Linked DNA regions of Homo sapiens: regions 1, 3 and 4 are each reported to be linked to region 2. Evidence: microRNA targets listed by miRTarBase, many of them from high-throughput screens and not tested one by one. Region 2 holds a microRNA gene; each other region holds the end of a gene's coding sequence.

Region 1 (7,683 bases), not on the chromosome of region 2:
TTGGTAACTCTGGATCAGATTACTTCCCTCATATTAGACTGATATTCTGCTATTTCCCAGCATTCCTATTTTTAAGCTCTGAATTATATAAGACATTCATCATAGTACTTGGAAACTTGTAGGTATTTTATGACTTATTATTCTGTTATTGAGGTGATACCTGGATAATCATTTTTTATTGAGCTCCTCAGATGAATATGATCAAAATAAAACATATTTCTCATCACTTGACTCAACTTTTATTTCTTTTAAATTTCTACTTATTTCTTGCCCTTTTTTTCATATTGCTCATATTTGAGAATTTTCTAAGCCATTCACTTCTCATATGCTTTACTTCAAGATTTTCTATATCTATTTTAGAAGTTGTATTGCTTTTTGTACATACAACCGTATGATGTTTTTACCTTCTTATTTTTCAGACATGCAGTCGAGGTGTCAGACCAAGAAGTTATTACCAAAAAATGGCATTTTTGAGAGAGAAATAGCCCAATTGGAAATAATGAGAATTTGTAAAAACCACAGCCTTGACTGTTTATGTTTTAGAGGTGACTGGGAAGGCAACACTCAGTTTCAAACACTTCAAGATAATCAAGAGGAATGCTTCAAGCAGGTGATACGCACCTGTGAAAAAAGGCCCACTTTTAACCAGCATACAGTGTTTAATCTACACCAGAGACTTAATACAGGAGACAAACTGAATGAATTTAAAGAACTGGGGAAAGCCTTTATTTCTGGTTCAGATCATACTCAACATCAGTTAATTCACACAAGTGAGAAATTCTGTGGAGATAAAGAATGTGGGAATACCTTTCTTCCTGATTCAGAAGTTATTCAATATCAGACAGTTCACACTGTTAAGAAAACATATGAATGTAAAGAATGTGGGAAGTCTTTTAGTTTACGTTCGAGTCTTACTGGTCATAAGAGAATTCATACCGGTGAGAAACCTTTTAAATGTAAGGATTGTGGGAAAGCCTTTAGATTTCATTCACAACTTAGTGTCCATAAGCGAATTCATACTGGTGAGAAATCTTATGAATGTAAGGAATGTGGGAAGGCCTTTAGTTGTGGCTCAGATCTTACTCGACATCAGAGAATTCATACTGGTGAAAAACCCTATGAATGTAATGAATGTAGAAAGGCCTTTAGTCAGCGATCACATCTTATTAAACATCAGAGAATTCACACTGGTGAAAAACCTTATGAATGTAAGGAGTGTGGGAAAGCTTTTACTCGTGGATCACACCTAACTCAGCATCAGAGAATTCATACTGGTGAGAAATCTCATGAGTGTAAGGAATGTGGAAAAGCCTTTATTCGTGGTTCAAATCTTGCTCAACATCAGAATGTTCATGTTGGTAGGAAACCTTATAAATGTGAGAAATGTGGGAAAGCCTATATTTGGAGCTCACACCTTGCTCGACATCAGCGAATTCATACTGGCAGGAAACCTTATGAATGTAAGCAATGCGGGAAGACTTTTACTTGGGCTTCGTATCTTGCTCAACATGAGAAAATTCACAATGAGAGGAAATCCTATGAATGTAAGGAATGTGGAAAGACCTTTCTTCATGGCTCAGAGTTTAATCGACATCAGAAAATTCATACTGGTGAGAGAAACTATGAATGTAAGGAATGTGGAAAGACCTTTTTTCGTGGTTCAGAACTTAATCGACACCAGAAAATTCATACTGGAAAGAGGCCATATGAATGTGAAGAATGTGGAAAAGCCTTTCTCTGGGGTTCACAACTTACTCGACATCAGAGAATGCATACTGGTGAGGAACCTTACGTATGTAAAGAATGTGGGAAATCTTTTATCTGGGGTTCACAGCTTACACGACATAAGAAAATTCATACTGATGCAGAACCTTATGGATGCAAGAAAAGTAGCCACATCTTTAGTCACCATTCATATTTTACTGAACAAAAAATTCATAATAGTGCAAATCTCTGTGAATGGACAGACTATGGGAACACCTTTAGTCATGAGTCAAACTTTGCTCAACACCAGAATATTTACACTTTTGAGAAATCCTATGAATTTAAAGATTTTGAGAAAGCATTTTCTTCAAGCTCTCACTTCATTTCACTCTTGTGAAATATTATATAAAAGTGTAGGAAGGGCTTTATTCATGACTCATTAATTGATGTCATTTATTTTTTTCTCTTGAGGAACACCACAAATGTAAGTAATATTGGAAGGCATTTTAACAGAGCACACATCCAGCAGCAGCAGCAGCAGCAGCAGCAGAGAATTCATCATGCAATCAATATAGGAAAGAAATTACTGATCAGTTATCAATTGCAGAATATCAGGGTAAAATTTTATGAGATAGCATGAATTCTTTTTGAATCATTCTCAAAACATTCTCATCAGAGATGTTGCATAAAGAATTTATATATAATTTGGCCAAGCATGGTGGCTCACACCTGTTATCCTAGCACTTTGGGAAACAGAGGTGGGTGGATCACCTGAGGTCAGGGGTTCGAGACCAGCCTGACCAACATGGTGAAACCCTGTCTCTACTAAATATACAAAAATTAGCCGGGCGTGGTAGCACACGCCTGTAGTCCCAGCTACTCGGGAGGCCGAGGCATGAGAATTCCTTGAACCTGGGAGGTGGAGGTTGCAGTGAGCCAAGATCACATCACTGCACTCCAGCCTGGGTGATAGAACAAGACTCCATCTCAAAAACAAAAACCCACAAGAATTTATATATAATTCATTTTGGAAATCTTTCATCATTAGCAAAATTCTGTTGTATTTCCACAAAAATCATGTAATTAATCTAGAAAAGCCTTGAACTATGTCATACAATTTATTTGGCATGTCTTGTTTCAATACATCCTGCCTCTATTTTTTTTTTTTGGAAAGTATCTTAAATCTATGTCTGTTTAATCGTATTCATTAGATTATAAGGGTTGAATGATTTGAGATTTACATGACTTAGTGACTGTCATTTGTATTGGTATTAAGCCATTTTATGAGAGGAGGACTTTTAAGACTATAATGATTATAGACAAATATGTCATCTCTATTTATGTCTTACTGAACATCAGAATGTTAATTCTGAAAAAAAATCAGTAAAATACAATGAAGAAAGCTTTGAATATTAATTTCACATGCTACATCAAAAAAACCTATAAAAGAAAGCCTTATGACTTTAGTAAAAGTGGGGTTGTTGAGTGTTCAGCAGTTTTTTAAAAGACATTCAGAAATAACTTCTCTCTAACAAATTTCTAAAGCCAAGTGTTATATAATTCTTTACCACAGTTATAACTCAGAAACTAGCAAATGGATAGCCATATGGATTCTTACCTCTTTGAAATTTACTACTATATATAAACCATTCTTAGATTAAAGAGCAAATAAAAAGTGAAATTACAGAGTATTTAGAATGATAATGAGACCTATATTTTAAATCCTGTGAAATAACTAAAACAGTTATCAATAGAAATTGCTCTGTGTATAAAACCAAGAAGACTGAGGGCAGTTTGTTTCTCTTCATCACTGTATCCACAGCACTGTATCCACAGCACTTAGGACAGTGCCTATAATGTTGTAGGGCCTCAAATATTTATTGAGTTAAATAATGATTACACAGCAAGGTAGAATAAGAACAAATACCCCAAATGAATGAATGGAAAGGCTTAATGAAAAGCTGAAATCATGGAATAAAAAACCATACAGGTTTTTCATCAAAATCTAGTCCTTTGAAGAAAACTATTATTCATTAGACTTTGTCAGTGCCTCTACTATATTATAAGGAGAAATGGAATATAACTATATGTTTGGAGATATTTTTTAGTATTAAGTATGTGAACTCTGTTAGACATGATTTTTATATGTGTACGGTTTTTTTCTAGGAAAACATTATTAAATATGATTAAGTTTCAAAAACAACCCAAAAAGTTCAAAAAATAGAAAAAAGTATCATGTAAGATGAGGTTGAGCACAGTGGCTCATGCCTGTAATCCAAACACTCTGGGAGGTTGAGACAGGAGTATCACTTGAACCAGGAGTTCCAGACTTGCCTGGACAACATAGGGAGACCCCCATCTCTGCAAAAAATAAATTAGCCAGGTGTGGTGGCACATGCCTCTGGTCCCAGCTACTCAGGAGGCTGAGGTGAGAGGACTGCTTGGGCCCAGGAGTTTGAGGCTGCAGTAAGCTGTGATCACCCCACTGCACTGCAGTCGGTGATGGAGCAAGACCCTGTCTAAAACAAAACAAAACAAACATGTAAGACTAGAAAACTGTACAGGCTACACCCTGAAGAATAGAAAATCCTATGGAAAATTTGCCAGGGCATGCTAAAAGACTAACATTTTTATAATAAAAGTAGATGGGATAGCTCTTGAACATCAAATTCCAGAAAAATTTCACTCATGAAGATACATGAAAAAAACTTACATAGATGAACCCAATATTTAATCAAAGAATAATATAGTAGATATTTGCTTATAATGTTTAAGCTCTGAGCAGGATGGATAATTTTTATTTTTGAGGTGGAGTCTCACTCTAGTTGCCCAGGCTGGAGTGCAGTGGGGTGATCTTGGCTCATTACAATCTCTGCCTGCCAGGTTCAAATGATTCTCCTGCATCAGCCTCCCGAGTACCTGGGATTACAGGCACCCTCCACCATGCCTGGCTAATTTTTGTATTTTCAATAGAGATGGGGTTTCACCATGTTGGCCAGGCTGGTCTCGAGCTCCCGACCTCAGGTGATCCGCCCACCTCAGCCTCCCAAAGTGCCAGGATTACAGGTGTGAGCCACCGTGACCAGCCTGGATGGGTAATTCTGAATGATGAAAAGTTACTTTATCAATTTCTTCTAAGTGAAGTTCTTGGTATCTTTTAGTGTTACATGAGTTAAGAAATGGTGACTATATGTACACATATTTAGCACATTTTGTAAGTCACACCTTTAACAGGTAGTTCCCTCCTAAATTATTGTCATCTATGGAATTTCACAATTTGTGTGAAAAATAATTTTTTGTTATGTAACTGTATTGTAATAAGCCATTTTCATTCATGTTGACTAGATCTTTTTTAAGGTGACAAGTACACTGAGATGGAGTTTCACTCTGTTGCCAGGCTGGAGTGCGCTTGCACAATCTTGGCTCACTGCAACCTCCGCCTCCCGGGTTCAAGAGATTCTCCTGCCTCAGCCTCCCGAGAGGCTGGGACTACAGGCATGCGCCACCATGCCCAGCTAGTTTTTGTATTTTTAGTAGAGATGGGGTTTCCCCATGTTGGCCAGGATGATCTCGATCTCTTGACCTCGTGATCTGCCCGCCTCAGCCTCCCAAAGTGCTGGGATTACAGGCGTGAACCACCGCACCCAGCTATGTTTATACTTTCAAAAACAGTGGAAGGATAAGCCAAGACCTAATCAAAATGATGAAATAATAGGTGGGAGCAGGGTGTGGTGGTGCACGCCTGTAATCCCAGCTACTTGGGAGGACATGGTAGGAGGATCCCTCGAGCATAGGAGTTCAAGTCCAACCTGGGCAACATAGCAAAACCCCTGTCTCTTAAGAAAAATTAAAATACAAACTATAGGTGGGAGAGAGCAAGGTTGGAAAGTAGTCACCTTTGATTTTACCTTGTTTTTATCTGAGAATCATTTTATAACCTCACAGTAAAGAATATTTCCTAGACAAAACATTTTAACTAGAAAAGTGTGGCATATTCATATTAATTTTATTATTCTGTTAACTGAAAGTCACCAGTAACAGAATGAACAGATGTCTGCTTCTGATCAAATGGAGAAACAGACCAGATTTACCCTTATATCTGTAAATACTAAAAAGCTAAACGAAATAGGTGAAACAATGGTTTTTAAGACATTGAATATACTAAAATGTCAATTTCCAATGAAGAACAGTGATCCCTGAAAAAAACAGAAATAAATTTTTCCTAGTTTTTCCAGATTACTGCTGGGAGGAGTAACTCAGGCAGAGCCTGGTGGTCTCCTAGTGTTTAGATAGAATGAGGAGTCTGATGAGGCCAAAGTGGCCCGAGTTGACAAGGCAAAACACTGAAGAGGAGAGAACTGCACGGAAATCTCCAGAGGATCTTCCTTTAAGTTCAGCTAAATATTCATCAACACGTGCGTGTGTGAAAACTACCTGAAGCCAGGGAAAAACAATTACCTTAAAGGATTAGAGGGAAGAATCCACAGAGCTCAAAAACGTCCAGGAATAATTCCTTTTCCCAGTAGCCAAAGTGGAAAATAAAAAATTACTAGGCATCAGCTGGGTGCGGTGGCTCGAGCCTGTAATTCCAGCACTTCGGGAGGCTGAGGCGGGTGGATCACCTGAGGTCAGGAGTTCGAGACCAGCCTGATCAACATGGTGAAACCCCGTCTCTACTAAAAATACCAAAAAAAAAAACCCGCCAGGTCTGTAATCCCAGCTACTCAGGAGGCTGAGGCAGGAGAATCACTTGAACCCGGGAGACAGAGGTTGCAGTGAGCTGAGATCGCACCACTGCACTCCAGCCTGGGCGACAGAGCGAGACTCCAGTTCAAAAAAATAAATAAAAATTAAAAAATAAAATAAAATAAAAAATTTACTAGGCATCCAGCATTCATTAAGGAGAATAATTCAGTTAAGGAGGAAAAGAATTCTGGGATTCTGGGAATTTCCTTAACCAATAAAGAGTATGTGTGAGAAACCTACTGCTAACATCATACTTAATGGTAAAAGTCCAAAGATCAGCAAAAAGAGGATACCTGGTCTAAACACTTCCACTAAGCATTATACTGGAAGTTCTAGCTAGTGCAATAAATGAAAGAATACAAAGTATCCAGATTGGAAAGGAAGTAAAATCATCTTTATTAACAGATTATATGATTGTCTATATAAAAAAAATCTGAAGGTATCTACAACACTATTAGAACTAAATGAGCTTAGTGAGACTGCAAAATAAAGATCAATATATATAAAGCAGATGATTTTGCATGAACTAGCCATGAACAATCTGAACCTTAAAACCTTAAATGCCATTTATAACACCATAAACAATATGAAATACATAGTGATGCATCTGGCAAAAGAAGTGCAAGATGTATAGTATAAAAATTAAAAACACTTCTGGGAGAACTTTAAAAAAGACCTAAATAGAGATATACTATGTTCAGAGACTACAAGACTCAATACCATTAATATGTCAATTCTTTCCAACCTGACCTATAGATTCAGTGAAATCCCATTTTGAATATTCAGGAGGCTTTTTGTTTTGTAGAAATTGGGAACTCAATTCTAAAATACATATGGACATGCAAAGGACCTAGATTAGTGAAAACAACTTTTAAAAATAATTCTGAAAGTTGGAAAATAGGCTGGGCGCGATGGCTCATGCCTGTAATCCCAGCACTTTGGTAGGCTGCGGTGGACAGATCACCTGAGGTCAGGAGTTCAAGACCAGCCAACATGGCAAAACCCATCTCTACTAAAAAATACAAAAATAGCCAGGTCTGCTGGCAGGCACCTGAAATTCCAGCTACTTGGGAAGCTGAGGCAGGGAGAATTGCTTGAACCTGGGAGTCGGAGGTTGAAGTGAGCCGAGATCACGCCATTGCACTCTAGTCTGGATGACAGAGGGAGACTCCGACTCAAAAAAAAAAAAAGAAAAAGTTGGAGAACATATGTTACCTGAATTTAAGACTTATT
Region 2 (7,542 bases):
CTGGAGTGCAGTGGCTCCATCTCGGTTCACTGCAACCTCTGCCTCCTGGGTTCAAGCGCTTCTTGTGCCTCAGCCTCCCAAGTAGCTGGGATTACAGGCACATGCCACCACACCCAGCTAATTTTTGTATTTTTAGTAGAGACGGGGTTTCACCATGTTGGCCAGGATGGTCTCGATCTCTTGACCTCAAGATCCGCCCACCTTGGCCTCCCAAAGTGCTGGGATTACAGACATGAGCCACCGTGCCCAGCCAGATACGCTATCTTTTTATTGAGTGATTGAGACAGGGTCTTGCTCTCTTGTCCAGTCTTGAATGTGGTGGTGTAATCACAGGCTCACTGCAGCCTTGACCTCCTGGGCTCAAGTTACCCTTCTGCAGTAGCTGGGACTATAGGAGCGTGCCACCACGCCTGGGTAATTTAAAAAATTTTTTTTGTATAGACAGGGTCTCACTATGTTGCCCGAGCTGGTCTCAAACTCGTGGGCTCAAGTGATCCTCCAGTTTTGGCCTCCCAAAATGTTGGGATCACAGGAGTGAGCCACCACTCCTGGCGATGAGCCAAGTCTTTTTTTTTTTTTTTTTTTTTTGATATGGAGTCTTGCTCTGTTGCCCAGGCTGGAGTGCAATGACACGATCTTGGCTCACTGCAACCTCTGCCTCCCAGGTTCAAGCAGTTCAAGCAATCCTCCTGTCTCAGCCCCCCAGTAGCTGGGATTACAGGCATGCGCTACCACGTCCGGCTAATTTTTGTATTTTTAGTAGAGATGAGGTTTTGCCATGTTGGCCAGGCTGGTCTTGAACTGCTGACCTCAGGTGATCCACCTGCCTCGGCCTCCCAAAGTGCTGGGATTACAGGTGTGAGCCATCGTGCCTGGCGGAGCCGAGTCTTAAAAGATGACCCTGTGGAGAAATGGTGGTCCAGGCTGAAGGGACAGCCTATGCAAACACTGGGAGGTGTGGAAAATCATGACCTGTGGGTGGAAATTTTGGCTAGAACATCAAAATCATCAGGTGTACATTCCTGTACCCATGCAGCAGTCAGAATCTCTGGGGGTGGGGCCCCAAAATTGTATGCATACAGACTGTGTGCTGATTTGTGATATTACTTAGGATTTTTTGACTTTACAATGGTGGAAAAGCAATAATATACATTCAGTATAAACCGTACTTTGAATACCCATACAGCCATTCTGTTTTTCACTTTTATTTTTATTTATTTATTTATTTATTATTTATTTTGAGATGTCATTTTGCTGTTGTTACCCAGGCTGGAGTGCAATGGCGCAGTCTTGGCTCACCGCAACCTCCACCTCTCAGGTTCAAACGATTCTCCTGCTTCAGCCTCCAGAGTGGCTGGGATTACAGGCAGGCACCACCACACCCGGCTAATTTTGTATTTTTAGTAGAGACGGGGTTTCTCCATGTTAGTCAGGCTGGTCTCGAACTCGAGAGCTCAGGTGATCTGCCCATCTCAGCCTCAAGCCACCATGCCCAGCCCTACTTTCAGTATTCAATAAATTACATAGCCAGGCACCGTGGCTCACACCTGTAATCCCAGCACTTTAGGAGGCCAAGGTGGGAGGATCCTTTGAGGCCAGAAGCTCGAGACCAGCCTGGGCAACATAGTGAGACCCCATTTCTACAAAAAATAAAAAAACTAGCTGAGTGTGGTGGCGTGTGTCTGTAGTCCCAGCTACTTGGGCAGCTGAGGTGGAAAGACTGCTTGAGCCCAGAGGTCAGGGCTGCAGTGGGCCATGATCTCACCACTGCACTCAGCCTGGGCAACACAGCAAGGCCCTGTCTCAAAAATAAATAAATAAATAACACAAACTTATTTAACAGTTTACTATAAAATAGGCTTTGTGTCAGATGATTCTGCCCAACTGTAAGCTGCTGGCAGTGTAAATGTTCTGAGCACGTGTAAGCCAGGCTAGGTGTCTTAAATGCATTTTCAGTTTCAACTTAGAATTGGTTTATCAGGACGTAGCCCCTTGGTGTTGAGGGGCATGTGTATTAACAGTCTCCTTAGTGACTTTTTTTTTTTTGAGATGGAGTCTTGCACTGGCCGTAGTGCAGTGGCACAATCTCAGCTCACTGCAACCTCTTGTCTCCCGGGTTCAAGCGATTCTCCTGCCTCAGTCTCCCAAGTAGCTGGGATTACAGGCACCCACACCACGCCCAGCTAATTTTTGTGTGTGTGTATTTTTAGTAGAGACGGGGGTTTCACTATGTTGGCCAGGCTGGTCTCGAACTCCTGACCTTGTGATCTGCCCACCTCAGACTCTCAAAGTGCTAGGATTCCAGGCATGAGCCACCGCGCCCAGAGTCCTTAGTGATTTTTACACCATGAATTGTTGAAGCCCTAAGCCAGAGCCAAGGGCAAGAGTATAGAGAATCTGGAGATGCGGAGAGGGTTCTGATTGCCTACAAGGAGTTTGGACTTTATTGTGGAGGCAGCGGGGAGCCAAGGCAGGTTTTAGAGTAGGAGAGGGTCCAAGCCTGTGGGTCACCCTTCCGACTTCCCTTTCCGAATGCCAAACACCTTCATGTCCCCCGTGGGCCCCCTTTGTCCCTCCCACCCCAAACTAGCCCTCAATCCCTGACCCTGGCTTCCGCCCCCAGCCCTCTGACGTCCATCATCTCTGCGGTGGTTGGCATTCTGCTGGTCGTGGTCTTGGGGGTGGTCTTTGGGATCCTCATCAAGCGACGGCAGCAGAAGATCCGGAAGTACACGATGCGGAGACTGCTGCAGGAAACGGAGGTGAGGCGGGGTGAAGTCCTCCCAGCCCGCGTGGGGTCTGCACCGGCCCCCGGCACTGACCCACCACCCCCTCACCCCAGCTGGTGGAGCCGCTGACACCTAGCGGAGCGATGCCCAACCAGGCGCAGATGCGGATCCTGAAAGAGACGGAGCTGAGGAAGGTGAAGGTGCTTGGATCTGGCGCTTTTGGCACAGTCTACAAGGTCAGGGCCAGGTCCTGGGGTGGGCGGCCCCAGAGGATGGGGGCGGTGCCTGGAGGGGTGTGGTCGGCAGTTCTGATGGGAGGGGCAAGAGCTGGAGGCAGTGTTTGGGGGAGGGCAGTTACAGCGGAGAAGGGAGCGGGGCCAAGCCCTAGGGTGGTGAAGGATGTTTGGAGGACAAGTAATGATCTCCTGGAAGGCAGGTAGGATCCAGCCCACGCTCTTCTCACTCATATCCTCCTCTTTCTGCCCAGGGCATCTGGATCCCTGATGGGGAGAATGTGAAAATTCCAGTGGCCATCAAAGTGTTGAGGGAAAACACATCCCCCAAAGCCAACAAAGAAATCTTAGACGTAAGCCCCTCCACCCTCTCCTGCTAGGAGGACAGGAAGGACCCCATGGCTGCAGGTCTGGGCTCTGGTCTCTCTTCATTGGGGTTTGGGGAGATATGACTCCCGCAAACCTAGACTATTTTTTTGGAGACGGAGTCTTGCTCTGTCACCCAGGCTGGAGTGCAGTGGCGTTATCTCGGCTCACTGCAACCTCCACCTCCTGGACTCAAGCGATTTTCATGCCTCAGGCTCCTGAGTAGCTGGGATTACAAGCGCCCGCTAATTTTTTTTTTTTTTTTGAGACAGAGTCTCGCTCTGTCACCCAGGCTAGAGTGAAATGGTGCGGTCTCAGCTCAGCCTCCCAGGTTAAAGCGATTCTTCTCCCTCAGTCTCCTGAGTAGCTGGGATTACAGGCGCGAGCCACCACGCCCGGCTAATTTTTGTATTTTTAGTAGAGATGGGATTTCACCATGTTGGCCAGGTTGGTGTCAAACTCCTGACCTCATGATCCGCCCGCCTCGGCCTCCCAAAGTGCTGGGATTACAGGTGTGAGCCACCGTGCCCGGCCTAATCTTTGTATTTTTAGTAGAGACAGGGTTTCACCATGTTGTCCAGGCTGGTACTTTGAGCCTTCACAGGCTGTGGGCCATGGCTGTGGTTTGTGATGGTTGGGAGGCTGTGTGGTGTTTGGGGGTGTGTGGTCTCCCATACCCTCTCAGCGTACCCTTGTCCCCAGGAAGCATACGTGATGGCTGGTGTGGGCTCCCCATATGTCTCCCGCCTTCTGGGCATCTGCCTGACATCCACGGTGCAGCTGGTGACACAGCTTATGCCCTATGGCTGCCTCTTAGACCATGTCCGGGAAAACCGCGGACGCCTGGGCTCCCAGGACCTGCTGAACTGGTGTATGCAGATTGCCAAGGTATGCACCTGGGCTCTTTGCAGGTCTCTCCGGAGCAAACCCCTATGTCCACAAGGGGCTAGGATGGGGACTCTTGCTGGGCATGTGGCCAGGCCCAGGCCCTCCCAGAAGGTCTACATGGGTGCTTCCCATTCCAGGGGATGAGCTACCTGGAGGATGTGCGGCTCGTACACAGGGACTTGGCCGCTCGGAACGTGCTGGTCAAGAGTCCCAACCATGTCAAAATTACAGACTTCGGGCTGGCTCGGCTGCTGGACATTGACGAGACAGAGTACCATGCAGATGGGGGCAAGGTTAGGTGAAGGACCAAGGAGCAGAGGAGGCTGGGTGGAGTGGTGTCTAGCCCATGGGAGAACTCTGAGTGGCCACCTCCCCACAACACACAGTTGGAGGACTTCCTCTTCTGCCCTCCCAGGTGCCCATCAAGTGGATGGCGCTGGAGTCCATTCTCCGCCGGCGGTTCACCCACCAGAGTGATGTGTGGAGTTATGGTGTGTGATGGGGGGTGTTGGGAGGGGTGGGTGAGGAGCCATGGCTGGAGGGAGGATGAGAGCTGGGATGGGGAGAATTACGGGGCCACCTCAGCATGTGAAGGGAGGGAAGGGGCTGCCTGTGCCCCACCTTGCAGGGTCTGTGCACTTCCCAGGATTAGGGAAAGACCGGGTAGGGTCTGTCTCCTGGCATCACATCTCCCCCTGCTACCTGCCATGATGCTAGACTCCTGAGCAGAACCTCTGGCTCAGTACACTAAAGCTCCCTCTGGCCCTCCCACTCCTGACCCTGTCTCTGCCTTAGGTGTGACTGTGTGGGAGCTGATGACTTTTGGGGCCAAACCTTACGATGGGATCCCAGCCCGGGAGATCCCTGACCTGCTGGAAAAGGGGGAGCGGCTGCCCCAGCCCCCCATCTGCACCATTGATGTCTACATGATCATGGTCAAATGTGCGTGGCTGAGCTGTGCTGGCTGCCTGGAGGAGGGTGGGAGGTCCTGGGTGGAGGAGCCCACAAGGGGCATGAAAGGGGACCAGGATGTATGTAGACCCAGGAGCCCTAGTATGTTAGGAGCCTCAAAACCTTCTTGTATCCCTTTTACAGTCAAAGTCCAAAGCCACTCTTGAGGAACACTCTTGTACAAAATTAAGCTGGGCACAGTGGCTCATGCCTGTAATCCCAGTACTTTTGGAGGCTGAGGTGGGAGGATCCCTTGAAGCCAGGAGTTCAAGACCAGCCTGGGCAACATAGTGAGATCCTATCTCTACAAAAAATAAAAAAATTATCTGGGTGTGGTGGTGTGTGCCAGTAGTCCCAGCTACTCAGGAGAGGCTGAGGCAGGAAGATCACTTGAGCCTAGTTTAAGGTTGCAGTAAGCTATGATTGCACCACTGAAATCCAGCCTGGGTGACAGAGCGAAACCTCATCTCAAAAAAATAAAAAAGCAAACAAAAAGAAAAAAAAAATTAAAAGGGAAACTAGAAGAGATGCCAAAGGTTCTGGCTGAAGACCCCAGAGTCTGGTGCTACTTCTCTACCACCTGAGGGCTTTGGGCTGTCCCTTGGGACTGTCTAGACCAGACTGGAGGGGGAGTGGGAGGGGAGAGGCAGCAAGCACACAGGGCCTGGGACTAGCATGCTGACCTCCCTCCTGCCCCAGGTTGGATGATTGACTCTGAATGTCGGCCAAGATTCCGGGAGTTGGTGTCTGAATTCTCCCGCATGGCCAGGGACCCCCAGCGCTTTGTGGTCATCCAGGTACTGGGCCTCTGTGCCCCATCCCTGCCTGTGGCTAAGAGCACCCTCCTGCAGAGGGTGGGAAGGAGAGATGAGTCCAGTATGCCAGGCCCCTCACGGAAGGCTGCATGCTGGGCTGGGGAGGGGCCACCATCCTGCCTCTCCTTCCTCCACAGAATGAGGACTTGGGCCCAGCCAGTCCCTTGGACAGCACCTTCTACCGCTCACTGCTGGAGGACGATGACATGGGGGACCTGGTGGATGCTGAGGAGTATCTGGTACCCCAGCAGGGCTTCTTCTGTCCAGACCCTGCCCCGGGCGCTGGGGGCATGGTCCACCACAGGCACCGCAGCTCATCTACCAGGGTCAGTGCCCTCGGTCACACTGTGTGGCTGTCTGCTTACCTCCCCCAACCCCGGTGGACTAGGGTCCCTTTCTCTGATGTTCCCTCAACTGTCACCTCTCAAGGAAACCCCATTATCCCTACAAAAAATTCTTACTGCCTTCCAACCCCTGTGACCCCATTCTCTCCACGGTGACTGTGTCATACCCCAAAGGTGACCTCTGTTTTTCTCCTGTGACCCTGTCACCTTCCATGGAGTCCCCATCCCAGATCCGTGAGTGACCCCCATCATGACTTTCTTTCTTGTCCCCAGAGTGGCGGTGGGGACCTGACACTAGGGCTGGAGCCCTCTGAAGAGGAGGCCCCCAGGTCTCCACTGGCACCCTCCGAAGGGGCTGGCTCCGATGTATTTGATGGTGACCTGGGAATGGGGGCAGCCAAGGGGCTGCAAAGCCTCCCCACACATGACCCCAGCCCTCTACAGCGGTACAGTGAGGACCCCACAGTACCCCTGCCCTCTGAGACTGATGGCTACGTTGCCCCCCTGACCTGCAGCCCCCAGCCTGGTATGGAGTCCAGTCTAAGCAGAGAGACTGATGGGCAGGGGAGGTGGGACCTTCAGCCCAGGGTCCACTGTGGGGGCAGAGGGAGTGGCAGAGACACCGGGGTTCCTTCCCCTAATGGGTCACCTTCTCTTGACCTTTCAGAATATGTGAACCAGCCAGATGTTCGGCCCCAGCCCCCTTCGCCCCGAGAGGGCCCTCTGCCTGCTGCCCGACCTGCTGGTGCCACTCTGGAAAGGCCCAAGACTCTCTCCCCAGGGAAGAATGGGGTCGTCAAAGACGTTTTTGCCTTTGGGGGTGCCGTGGAGAACCCCGAGTACTTGACACCCCAGGGAGGAGCTGCCCCTCAGCCCCACCCTCCTCCTGCCTTCAGCCCAGCCTTCGACAACCTCTATTACTGGGACCAGGACCCACCAGAGCGGGGGGCTCCACCCAGCACCTTCAAAGGGACACCTACGGCAGAGAACCCAGAGTACCTGGGTCTGGACGTGCCAGTGTGAACCAGAAGGCCAAGTCCGCAGAAGCCCTGATGTGTCCTCAGGGAGCAGGGAAGGCCTGACTTCTGCTGGCATCAAGAGGTGGGAGGGCCCTCCGACCACTTCCAGGGGAACCTGCCATGCCAGGAACCTGTCCTAAGGAACCTTCCTTCCTGCTTGAGTTCCCAGATGGCTGGAAGGGGTCCAGCCTCGTTGG
Region 3 (5,400 bases), not on the chromosome of region 2:
AACCCCGTCTCTACTAAAAAATACAAAAGTTAGCTGGACGTGGTGGCACACACCTGTAATCCCAGCTACTCAGGGGAGGCTGAGGCAGAAGAATTGCTTGAACCCGGGAGGTGGAGGTTGCAATGAGGTGACGTCACACCACTGCATTCCAGCTCTGGGCAACAGAGCAAGACTGTCTTAGTGGGGGTGGGGGCGGGGAGGGCGGTGAGAAGGATCTTCCTCTGTCACCCAGGCTGGAGTGCAGTGGTATGTCAGCTCACTGCAACCTCTGCCTCCCAAGCTCAAAAGATCTTCCCACCTTGGCCCTCCCTGCACAGTAGTTGGGACTACAGGCCTGCATCACCATGCCTGGCTCATTTTTATATTTTTTGCCGAGATGAGATTTCACCGTGTTGGCCAGGCTGGTCCTGAACTCCAGATCTGCCCATCTCGGCCTCCCAAAGTGCTGAGATTACAGGCATGAGCCACCACATCCAGCCATAATTTTTAAAAATGGCTTCCTGAGGTTTTACAAGAAAATATGCACCTCAAAATACACAAATAGGCATGGGAATAGAGTACAGTGAAGTGAAAGATAAAATGTACTGAGAGCTGGGAGTAGGAGAGACAAGGCCCTGGCTGAGGGGGTGTCAGTGGGCCTCCCAACACCTCAAGCCAATCCACTTGGAGGTCTCCCAAAGTTCATCAGGAGAACCACCTACAGCCAAGAACAGAAAAGGATTCAAGAAAGCCGCACAGATATCATGCCCTGACCTGCAATGAGGCTGCTCACTTCCCATGACTTCTGCTTGATACCATTCAACCCTGGTTAGCTCATGCTGAAGAAATATTTACTAGAAGCCTCAGATATGGGTGCCTAGAAGGAAAAAGATCCAAGTTCTCTGTGGTGGTGCAACCTGTGGGAACTATTGCCTCATGCTCAGAAGGCCAAGCACTAGGCTCCCATACAATACCTACAAGACAGACACTCTGGGAGGCAGATTTCTCTTTTGGAGGGAGACCCCAGGTGCTCTCCTCTGGGTGCCCGAGTGTTGGAATGGGCGGATGCCAAGACTTCATTCTAGCTCTTGGTCAGCAGCAGCACTAAGGGTCTCTGAGAAGCATCAGAGATTTCACCACTGATGAACTGCCAGGAGGCTAGTGGGGGCGGACTGAGGAGACACTGAAACACCGAAGCTGCCGCCACCACCGGCTGATGCAAGTTTTATTGAGACAATATACAAACAGGCCATGGAAACAAGGGTTTTGATGCTGGGACCAGTAACGTAAAACGGAATACAAAAATAAAAAGGCACTAATCTGTTAAGAAAAGACACTCGATGTATTCTAAGAATATAAGTCATTTAATACTGTTAATTTTATAGCACAAAATAAAACAAGCTATGATCCCCAAAAATAATTTTAAAAGCTTACACAGAAAATATTATTGCCTGAAGTTTATGATCTTTAAGTTACAGGTCAAAAGAGTTTTATGTTGTTGTTGTTGTTGTTGTTGTTGTTTTAAAACACACAGTGAAGACCGTCTAAGAAGCAAGGCCACTGTTCCTCCTGTAGGGACAACGATCCTGTCTCAGAGACCTGTCCTTCTGCTCCTTTAGAAAACAGAACCAGCACAGCGTCCACACCGACAGCAGTTACTAGGGGCATAGTCCTCCGGTCGCAGAGGGTGGAGTTGAGGCAGAGCTCAGTGGTGTCCACAGAAAGCATTAGTCTTAGGTACTGTGTTAAAACAATCAAGAATTCATTCATGTTTAAGAGGTTAATAACCATAATATTAAAGGATTAATTATAAACACCTGGCAAAAAACCACATCATCCCTTTTCAAAAATAAAATGTTCATATTCCTCTGAGCAAACATCACAAGAGCAGTGGCCATCTGCCTCAGGCCTGCCTTGTCTGTAAACAGCTGTAAAGGAAAGCTAGCACAGCGCCAGGGACACATGAGCTCCCAGGAGGGCACAGCTGTCCTTCCCTTTCAGCTTTCCAAACATGAGCACAGAAGGTGTCTAGTCTGGGTGACCAAAGTCCTCAAACGGCAGCCGGTCAACACATCGTCTTCCTCGTTAACCATGTCATCAGGTGGTTCCACACAGCACAGACATGGCTGACTCCTGTACCGCAGGTCCTTCCCGGGATACACAAGTTTTTAACCAGTCAATGCCCTCTAGTACGTAATTTGTTTCCTTCCCAGGTGAAAAACCATAGTGAGTTAATTTAACATCCAAATATTTCTTTAAACATGGTAGAGCAGAGCAAGTAGCAGTTATGAACACCCACCCTCTGGGTCAGATGTGCACTGCTCTATGGAGCACAACAGTCTTCCCAGACCAGTGGGGAACCCAGGCACGAAGCTGAGCTGAGGCAGCAGTGCTGCATTCATATGTTTAGTGTGAAAAACAGAGTATCCCTGCCTCATTAAAAAAACTGACAAGGTTGTAAGTCCGTTAAGTTTTACTAGTTTTGGCACATATCTGGAGTGCAGAACTCAAGCTCGCCTTGTTTTGAGCTCTGAATCTCCTGGCAGCCCTGGATGCCATTTTCATGGGCTGAAGTAACGAGCTGATTAATTATAAAACCAAACCACAGGTATACTCTAGGTATATCTGATTCTGAAGTGCGCCACACAAGGTGAGTCGGGGTATTGGTCAGTAGACAGGGCTGAAAGGAAACCTTGCTTTCCAAAATGGCCAGACTTCTTGCACTCTGAGTCAACTGCTGTAATTCAAAGGTGTCAAGCCCTTCAGCTAAATCTGGTTGAAAAAGGCCTAAGGGTCGTGCCCTCCTTGAACAAGGCACACATTCCTCCCTCTGTTGGAAACTCCACTCATGGCTCAACATGGGCCGGGATGAACCACGTCACTGGCCAAAGGGCAAACACTGTTTCTAGGCAGAGTCTGGGGACTCTTGTGATATGTCTGCCACTTGTGGGTGCTACGCCAGGCCTGAACCCAAAATAAGCCAACCTGACACACCTAACCAGAAGCGGCAACTGCCGCAGACCGTGCAGAGCAGGAGGCGGTCACCGTTCTCACTGGCAAGGAAGGGCTAATCTCCAAGGCTTTTAGAGGAAAACCACAGATGGGAAGCCATGGCGATAGTTTTCCCAAATGACCATTAATTCTGTCTCAGGAACACTCTCAAGATTCATGAATACAGCAGTTATCTGCCTGATGGAATACTGATTTAAAGAAAAATTGAAAAATGGCTGTTCTGCTGGTTCTGTCTCCAGAATGCATTGCTCTAAATCTCAAAACCTAGGAACCTCCAGACAGGGCCACAGTCACAGCAGATGATCAGTAAATGAAAGCTACTCAGTAGGCTGCTGCTACATTTCTAGGTCTGCTGTGTTCACTATGAGCTGAGGCTTTTCTTTACCAGGGTCCACAAGGGAGAGCAGACTGAATTGCACAGGGTTCCCAGAATTCTAGTCTGCTATGTGCAGCAGATGATGGATGAACCACACGTATATACCAGTTGGCTTGTATGAACAGGCCTCTTTTAGCTAACAGGGAAATGCTTTAACATCAATACACTGATAAGTGGTTAATGATAAACTAGTTAATGGTCTCCCTAGTCACTAAAACACTAAGACATCAAATACATTAACGAATTTCCAGAGCTTGCATTTCCTTTGCTTGGGAGCATCACAGACACTTACTTAGACTGTGAGACCAGTATGAGCAGCACCAACTTTCTCTGGCAGCCTGACGAGATTGGGCCTGGGCACGGAGGTCTGGGCTTCAGTGAGTGGAGTTGAACGATTCATTAATGAGTCCAACGATTCTATGAACAACGCCACTTTTTAAGGAAGTTTAAGTCTGAACCTTAAAGGGGTACATTCACTGAAAAGCTGAACAGAAAACTGGCCAAGTGCCCTCCAACCCACTGCTCTTATCACTGGCAAAACAAGGTAAGCAAAGGTTTCCCTAAAGTACCCCCAACTCTGATGCTTTTTAAAACAAAGTAATCCAAGGGGCTGTGCACATAGCATGGCACACCACAACTGCATTATTTTGTGTGTTGTCTGCTACATGGCAAAACAAGGTACTACTGGCAACCAAGACAATAAAGGCCTCTGCTTCAGGGTTGTTCTTTTCAGATTCCTTTAGTTACAGCAGCTTCAGTTTAGAAGCTCAGAGGCATGAGTCATTCCTTGCACTATCATAAAAACCCAACCTGCTACTTAACCTGTTTAGAACACACAAGTCTAGGCCAGGCGCGGCGGCTCACGGCTGTAATCCCAGCACGTTGGGAGGCTGAAGGCGGGTGGATCACCTGAAGTCAGGAGTTTGAGACCAGCCTGGTCAACATGATGAAACCCCGTCTCTACTAAAAATACAAAAATTAGCTGGGCGTGGTGTGCGCGCCTGCAGTCCCAGCTACTTGGGAGGCTGAGGCAGGAGAATCGCTTGAACTCAGGAGGCGGAGACTGCAGGAAGGCGAGATTGCGCCACTGCACTCCAGCCTGGGTGATGCAGCGAGACACCGTCTCAAAAAAACAAAACAAAACAAACAAAACAAAACAAAAAAAAACCCCCACACAAGTCTAATTAATTAGTTTTCCAAAACCAAACCAAAACAAAAGAAAAAAAAAAGCCAGATTTTGGAGTTTTAGAACAGAATTCTCTCTTCCTTAAGGTTCACTTCCTGTTGTCCAAAGAAAAGCAAGATGGCAGCTAAGCCACTGCTTTGTGGAACAGCAAACATGCAGTATCTCGCCATGGCCTCAAGCTTTCTCTGGTGAACACAACAGAATCAGTCCCATGTACAAACGGGCAGCAATGAGAAGGAAGACCCTTTCCATGTCAACTTCTCTCCACTTGTGTGCTTCCATCAGTATTTCCAGTTTATGATCCAAAAGAACTCTAAAATCGGCTACTCTTTGACAATACGACTATGATACAAACATCAGGAGGCAGCCGCTGTGTGCATTCCAAATGTGTGTGCGACTGCCAGTCTGCAGAAAGCTGGACTTCGGCAATGCAGTGTGACTTGCCTATGAGAGAAAATGCTTTCCCACTTCAAAGGAGACTAGGACAGGCAGAACAACAAAGCAGCAGGAAACAGGGCAACAGCAATCACTCGTTTTCATCTGGGTTTTGAGGGTCAAAGATTTTGACGTGCGTAAAGGGGAAAAGCCCTTTGCGCCCGTTCACTTCGCCTTCCCACTGGCCATTTATATTCATCCTTGTGACTTTCACGATGTCACCAACCTGTATGGATGAAGAAGACAAAGTTAGCATTTCTCTGCAACAAGAAAAAGACAGTTTACATTAAATCACAAACACTACCTTATCCAAAGGGCCCATACATTATTATTTAGACACAGGGTCTCACTCTGTTAGCCATGCTGGAGTGTAGTGGTGAGATCCCTGCTCAATGTAACCTCTAACGCCTGG
Region 4 (7,347 bases), not on the chromosome of region 2:
GGTGTGAGCCACCACACCCAGCCAGGATTTGTGCATTTTTCTATATATAATTTGTTCAATTAAAGATTTTTTATAATGGTTCCAAATTTCAGGAATCTCGAATTACTTGCTTAGTAGGATACTAAGCCTACAAAATATAAAGTAATACTTTACTGTATACTTAAGTCTATGGAGTTGCTGTCTCCTATCTGTAGGAGTAGAAGACAATTACTTCTTGGCTTGGGTTGGTTTGCCCCTGGTAAGGAGGTTTCTTGTGGCACCAGGAAGGTTTCATGATTCTCCATAAAGAACAGATTTGGCATGTCTTGCTTGGTGCTTCTCTCATTGTGTGTCTAATGATTCCATGGACATAAAAGAATACTCTATATTGAAGGAGAAAGTATGTTTCTTACTTGCTGTCCTCAGTCCTCCCCCAGTGGCTCTCATCAGTATCCTCATCCCAGTAAATAACACAAACATCCACCCAGTCCATCCAGGTGCTCAAGCCCAACCCTGAGGCATCTTGACTTCCCCCTCTCCCTCCTCTGATCCTTCAAAGATGTCCACCTCCAAGTCACCGCGCCAATCTGTCTACTTCCCTCCTCTCTACCACCCATTCTAGTCCTAGTGTGGCCAGTTGAATAACAGCCCCCAAAGATGTCAAGCCTGAAACCCTGGAGCCTGTAAATATGTTACTTTCATGGTAAAAGGGACTTTGCAGGTGTAATTTAAGTTAGGAAGTCTGATCCTTTGAGCTGGAGCTGCAAGGTTAAAAAAAAAAATCCTGTGATGGGGAGTGTAGCTTGGATTAGCCAGTTGGGCCCTATATAATCACAAGCCCTTAGAAGAGGCAGACAAGGCTGGATGCGGTGGCTCACGCCTATGATTCCAGCACTTTGGGAGCCTGAGGCGGATGGATCACCTGAGGTCAGGAGTTCGAGACCAGCCTGGCCAACATGGTGAAACCCTGTCTCTACTAAAAATACAAAAATTAGCCAGGCGTGGTGGCACATGCCTGTAGTCCCAGCTACTCGGGAGGCTGAGGCAGGAGAATCACTTGAACCCAGGAGGCGGAGGTTGCAGTGAGCCGAGATGGAGCCACTGTACTCCAGCCTGGGTGGCAGAGCGATACTCTGTCTCAAAAAAAAAAAAAAAAAAAAAAGAATGACAGAGTTTGTGAGGGAGAGTTGGACTGAGGGCATCACGACGGAGTTAGGGGTTGAAATTGATATACCACTGGCTTCGACGATGGAGGAAGGGTCGAGAGCCGATGAAGGCAGGCAGCCTCTAGAAGCTGGAAAAGGCCAGGAACGAATCCTCTCCCAGAGCCTCCAGAAAAAAAAGCAGCCCTGATCACACCTTGATTTTAGGACTTCTGACTTCCAGGATGGTAAGAGAATAAACCTGTGTCAAGCCACTTCGTTTGTGGTAACTTGTCACAGCAGCAATAGGAAACTGACATACTTAGGTGCCATCACTTTTCACCTGTGCCTAGCTGATCGCCTGCCTCTGTCCTTGCACCATAATCTCCCTTTTTCACAGAGGGGCCGGAAGAATCTTGGTAATTTAGAAACAGGGTCCCTGCACACCAGCACATCCTCCTTTTTTTTTTCTTTTTTTTTGAGATGGAGTTTCAATCTTTTGCTCAGGCTGGAGTGAAGTGGTGCAATCTCGGCTCACTGCAACCTCTGCCCCCCGGGTTCAAGCGATTCTCCCGCCTCAGCCTCCTGAATAGCTGGGATTACAGGCATGCACCACTACTGCCCGGCTAATTTTTGTATTTTTAGTAGAGACGGAGTTTTGCCATGTTGGCCAGGCTGGTCTCAAACTCCTGACCTCAGGTGATCCACCCACCTTGGCCTCCCAAAGTGCTAGGATTACAGGCGTGAGCCACTGTTCCTGGCCACATCCTCCTTCTTAAAACCTCCCATGGGTTTCCATGATCCTTAGAATAAGATCCAGCCTCCTCACCATAGCCCACAATGCCTTGCGCCATCTGGCCCTGGCCTCCCTCTTCCCATTCATTGTGCTCTGGCCTTAGCTGGCTTCTATGTGTATCCCAACTTGAAATGCTCTTTCCAGCCTCAGAACCCTTGCACTTGCTGTTCCCCTTGCCTGAATGCTCTTCCCAGCTCACCTCGTGGCTCCTGCCATCTCCTTCAAGCTTCTTGGCTGAAACGGCCCCTTGCCAGGGGTCTTCTCTGGCTACCACCCCAGCCCCCAGCCATTATTGCTTCTTACAAATCACAATCTATGACTGTATAACTGGTTATCTGTCCTCTCCCTCTTCTACTAGGATGTAAGGTTGTATGGACAAGACGCCCAGTCTGTCTTGTTCGTGGTTGTGTCCCTCTGTGTCAGGCATCAGTACCTGACCATTTGTAATGAGCATTAAATATTTCTTAAATGAACCCGTTGTGTTTCCTTGGCATGACCTAAATGACTTCCCCATTGCATGTCCTCTACTTATAATAAGCACTTGGGTTCTAGTTCTGATAGAATAGAAGCAAATAAATGGGAAACTCGGGCCTTTGTGCAAGGTCAGGGTTGTCAAGCCTACAGACATGGGCAGATGTTTCTCTACAGAGCAATGCGCATGAGGATAAAATACATAGCAGCTGTTGATTAATTAAATAGTCCTAAGCTGAGTTGCAGTGAGCCAAGATCATGCCAATGCACTCCAGCCTAGGAGAGAGAGACTCTGTCCCCCCCACAAAAAAAAAGGCAGCAGCAGCAGAAAAAAACACCTAGATAATTCACAACTGTTGTTTTTTAAATCGTGAATAATTGAACTAAAGATTGGAAACCAGAGTCAGTGTCAATCCACAGTACTTCATAATAAACTATCCTATTTTTCACCCAAATTCTGGGCTTGGTTTTTGTTTGTTTGAGACAGAATTTTACTCGTTGCCCAGGCTGGAGTGCAATGGCACGATCTCAGCTCACTGCAACCTCTGCCTCCCAGGTTCAAGTGATTCTCCTGCCTCAGCCTCCCAAGTAGCTGGGATTACAGGCGCACACCACCACACTCGGCAAATTTTGTTTTAGTAGAGACAGGGTTTCTCCATGTTGGCCAGGCTGGTCTCAACTCCTGACCTCAAGTGATCCACCCACCTCGGGACACTGCCTGTGTAATACACCAGTGTTACACAGAGGATTCCCCAAGATTTCACTCTGGAGTTCCACATCTAGAGAGAAGGAGGCATACCAAATGTCTCAGAGTACATTTCTATTGTATCTGGAATACACTTCCGTGATTGTCAGGACATAGATTGCTTTCTATGCCCTGACAGGGCATGAACACATATGAAGCAATGGCAAAGTTTTGCTTAGAGTCAGTATAGCATGACACTTAGGGAATGGGCTCTTCAACCAGAGCATCTGGATTCAAATCCCAAATAACACAGTAAGTGCTCAAAATATTAGCTATTATTGTATTTAGAATAAAAACCAAACTACTATGGTCTACAAAGTTTATGATGTTCCCTGCTTCTCAAACCTCACCCTGTCCCACTCTCCCTAATTGTTTGCAACCCAACTTGCCTCTGCAGTTTCTTGAACGGAACATTCCAAGTTTATTTACCTTGAGGTCTTTACAGTTATTTTTCTCCCAGTATAGAATTTTCCTCAGATCTTCTGTAACTGGCTCTTTCTCACCTTTCAGGTTTTGGGTTTAATGTCATCTCTGAGGCCTTCCATAATTAAGCTATTCAAAACAGATCCCCTCCCCCACCCTAATATGTCACAGTTTCATTTCTTTTATGGCACTTATCAGTAATTTACTTATCACCATTTAAATATAAACTCCTCTACAACAGGAAACCTCTTGCTCATTTTTATTCCAGAACCTAGAAGAACTAGTACACTGAAGGCATTTGATGTTTGTTATGAAAAGGAAACAACAAAAAAATCAAGTTCAGGCTGGGCATGGTGCCTCATACCCGTAATCCCAAGCACTTTGGGAGGCTGAGGCAGGAGGGATGCTTGAGCCCAGGAGTTTGAGATCAGCCTAGGCCACATATTCAGACCCCATTGCTACCAAAAAATTTTTAAATTAAAAAATGGCTAGGCATGGTGGCATACAACTGTAATTCAAGCTACTTGAGAGGCTGAGGTGGGAGGATCACTTGAACCCAGGAGGTTGAGGCCACAGCGAGCTGTGATCACAACACTACACTCCACCCTGGGCGACGAAGCAAGACTTCGTCTCAAAAAACAAATTATGTTCAAATCCTATCTCACCATAAAAACCTAGCTACAATCCCCAGAGAAAACCAAATTTCAAATACTAATATATGCCAGGTGCAGTGACTCATGCCTGTAATCCTAGCACTTTGGGAGGCTGAGGTGCACAGATCACCTGAGGTCAGGAGTTCAAGACCAGCCAGGCCAACATGGCGAAACCCCATCGCTACTAAAAATAGAAAAATTAGCCAGATGTGGTGGCAGGTGCCTGTAATCCCAGCTACTCAGGAGGCTGAGGCATGAGAATCACTTGAACATGGGAGGTGGAGGTTGCAGTGAGCCGAGATTGTGCCGCTGCACTCCATCCAGCCTGGGGGATAGAGCGAGACTCTGTCTCCAAAACAACAACAACAAAAAACAAATACTGAAATAGATCTGGGTTGTGTACTGGGTATCTGTTATATTCTTAACAGCCCATCTTTTGAAAAATATTTCACTATTTGGGAAAATCCCACATCATGAGTTCTGTCTTCCTATTGTAGATATCAAAACACAAATTCCCAGCCTCTCTTGCAGCTAAGATGTAGGCATGTAATTAGACTCTGCCTACCAGGCACCCTCATAAGGCTTGACTCAGAAAAGAATAATGTAGTGACTCTGTTTCTCGACACATGGACTGTGGCTGAAGTGTTGGGCTTTCTGGGAGAGTTGGGGGGGCACGTCAAGTGAAACTGGTGAGACTGTAGTGGCGTTTCCTCCGGTACTTGATAGGGCAGCACAACATAGACACTGTTCTCCTAAGGCCAGTTTTGTGCATGATTTCGGGCATCATTCCTAGAAGTACAGCCTTGAATCTGTCCCCAAAATTCTCAAAAGCACCTCCTATCACTTTAGTAAACCTTTTAACACTTAGCTAGTCAGCTTCTCTTGCCTGTCCCCTGTGACAACCAGGTTTATAGGAACTACAACTGTCTATAACTTTAGGACTTCAGTCTTTAGAATATGAAATTGTTCCTGTGTGTCGCTATTTGTTTCCTGCTATGTATCAGAATCAGTTGTCCCTGGAAGAAGGAGATGAAAAACACAGGCCAGCCATCTTTGTTCTCCACTCCAGGTCACAGTCATTTACCTCCATAACTCGTTGGCAGGAACAGTCATAAGAGACCTGCTTCATCTTTATAACAGAAGGGTATACCATACTTTAAGTATACCTGTTCAAAGAATTAGTTACAATGTTTCACAGTTAAAAAGTGATGACTAATTTTGAATTTGTTAAATACCACCCTCTTATAATAAAACAAGATTCTATATCACAAATTGCAAACTGGTAAGTAAATCTGGTCTACAAAGGGTTTTTGCTGGCTTATGATACATTTAAGCTTTAAAAAAAATGGTTAACAGAAATACAAAGATTTTATAGTTGTATCTGTGATTTCTGCCATTCTTAAAAAAACAACAGCAGCAATTGATGATTATAAGCCTGCATGCAGCAAGCAGGAGGTCACAGGCCCCCTTCTGACAAGCCATTAGTTCATCTGGCCACTGATAGGCACTCACAAATCAAATTTTTACTTATAATGTTGTTGTATATATTGGAAGTTGGTGAGACTACCTACTATTTTATGAAAATGTTAAGTAAACAAACATAAAAACATTTTACATTAGTATAAAATGCTGGAATAAAAAAACATTAAATCAAAAGAGAAAAGGCAAATTAAAGGGGGAGAGGCAAAGGGTTGGGACTTTGACTTGAAAATTCCAAAGCAAGTCAAACCATAGTATGCAATTTAAACGATGTGATATGTGTGCAACATAAGGTGGACCCTGAAGTTAACTTTAAGAAAACAGTAGCAATTTATAAGAGACACTGACAGACTACAAAGGTGGTTTCCTTTATTTTGGTAAACTTTAAAGATCTCGGGAGGGTGTGGTGGCTCACGCCTGTAATCCCAGCACTCTGGGAAGTCGAGGCAGGCGGATCACGAGGTCAGGAGTTCGAGACCAGCCTGACAAACATGGTGAAACCCCCTCTGTACTAAAAATACAAAAATTAGCCAGGCGTGGTGGCGTGCGCCTGTAATCCCAGCTACTCAGGAGGCTGAGGCAGGAGAATCGCTTGAACCTGGGAGGCGGAGGTTGCAGTGAGCTGAGATCGCACCACTACACTCCAGCCTGGGCAACAGAGAGAGATTCCATCTCAAAAAAAAAAAAAAAATCTCATTTTGATACTAATTCAAAAGGCCAAATAGAATGACCCTCTTTCTGAATAATTAAAACAATTTACATTTTAAACATGTATTTCTGTAGGATGTATTCTATCATCTGAAATATTAATAAGATCCAAGAATTTCTTAACTGAACAGTAAACAGATCCGAAGTATATAATCTGTGAAAATGATTTAGAAAGCATTTTGACTGGGGGAGGTGGAAAATAAGGACATGTAAATGATCTGCAGTTTAAAATGCAAAATCCTGTCACGTTACATCTCACATGTCCAAGACATCCTCCGTGTGCTGAAAAAAAAAATGATGGTTCTCAGAAACGGTATAATCCATTAATAAGTCATTCATCCAATACATAACAATTTTTAAAACTCCTTATAAAAAGGAGTCCACGTATTCACAGATACTGTAGAATCCCCAGCTCCTATGTATATTACCGAAAAATGCAAACAAGTGTATCTTTGAGGTATTATGGCAATCCACATCTTTCTCATCAGACTATACCAGTCACCTCAGTACTGTGGAAATGTTCCATCGATTTTGGCAGCCCAGGCCATGAGGCCCCCCACAACATCCCGAACTGTTAAAGGGTCTAACTCTTGAGCTGCTGATAAGGACTGGAGGATCTTCACGGCTTTCTGTGAGTCATTTCCCAGTTTGCAAATCACATAAATGGGGACAGCAGCCCCTTCTTGTGTGCCCTGCTTCTCTTCCCAGATTGCTTCTTTTAAGAGTTTCAGGCTCTCCGCATCCCTGCGTTCCAAATGTTTCAGAGGGATGTGTAGGGCATGAGGCAAACGACAAATGTCCACCTCCACCTGAGGCCTGACGTCCAGCAACAGGTGGAATGCCCCAGAATCCAGCAGTCGCTTATAGTCGGTGACAGAAACACGCTCCTCTGGGCTCAGTAGTTGCAGGGAGCGGCATTTATCAGTGGCTGAGGAGCCACAGAAGGCTTCA

The links. The annotated mature microRNA hsa-miR-4728-5p reads UGGGAGGGGAGAGGCAGCAAGCA and lies in region 2 at 5,801-5,823, shown strand. An mRNA with a match to its seed (bases 2 to 7 or 8) in the 3' UTR can be bound and repressed. Matches are read on the target gene's strand: a 7mer-m8 pairs with bases 2 to 8, a 7mer-A1 pairs with bases 2 to 7 and ends in A, and an 8mer does both.
Region 1: the mRNA of ZNF790 is a reported target of hsa-miR-4728-5p. The part of its 3' UTR that is shown has no 7-base or 8-base seed match.
Region 3: the mRNA of CRKL is a reported target of hsa-miR-4728-5p. Seed matches in the 3' UTR shown: 7mer-A1 at 4,386-4,392 and 7mer-A1 at 4,251-4,257.
Region 4: miRTarBase lists MOCS3 as a target of hsa-miR-4728-5p. Seed matches in the 3' UTR shown: 7mer-A1 at 6,288-6,294, 7mer-m8 at 6,084-6,090, 7mer-A1 at 4,482-4,488, 7mer-A1 at 4,315-4,321, 7mer-A1 at 4,095-4,101 and 7mer-A1 at 3,939-3,945.

What each region holds. Positions count from the first base shown.
Region 1 is chr19:36,812,851-36,820,533 of GRCh38, reverse strand. ZNF790 (zinc finger protein 790) reads left to right here. Exons shown (of 5, transcript NM_206894.4): 5 at 420-3,106. The coding sequence ends at 2,101. The region is part of intron 3 of ZNF790-AS1 (ZNF790 antisense RNA 1); the gene reads right to left. Among named protein-coding and RNA genes, the nearest start is that of ZNF790-AS1, 19 kb to the right of the region's middle.
Region 2 is chr17:39,720,696-39,728,237 of GRCh38, forward strand. It overlaps MIR4728 (microRNA 4728), which reads left to right and starts at 5,800; the gene lies at 5,800-5,866. ERBB2 (erb-b2 receptor tyrosine kinase 2) reads left to right here. Exons shown (of 27, transcript NM_004448.4): 17 at 2,624-2,762; 18 at 2,843-2,965; 19 at 3,217-3,315; 20 at 4,031-4,216; 21 at 4,354-4,509; 22 at 4,632-4,707; 23 at 5,012-5,158; 24 at 5,867-5,964; 25 at 6,120-6,308; 26 at 6,600-6,852; 27 at 6,994-7,542. The coding sequence ends at 7,349. RefSeq lists an enhancer at 5,608-6,580.
Region 3 is chr22:20,949,525-20,954,924 of GRCh38, reverse strand. CRKL (CRK like proto-oncogene, adaptor protein) reads right to left here. Exons shown (of 3, transcript NM_005207.4): 3 at 1,178-5,214. The coding sequence ends at 5,080. Among named protein-coding and RNA genes, the nearest start is that of LINC01637, 4.9 kb to the left of the region's middle. RefSeq lists enhancers at 2,405-2,904, 2,905-3,406.
Region 4 is chr20:50,959,778-50,967,124 of GRCh38, reverse strand. MOCS3 (molybdenum cofactor synthesis 3) reads right to left here. Exons shown (of 1, transcript NM_014484.5): 1 at 3,196-7,347. The coding sequence ends at 6,900. Among named protein-coding and RNA genes, the nearest start is that of MOCS3, 4.6 kb to the right of the region's middle.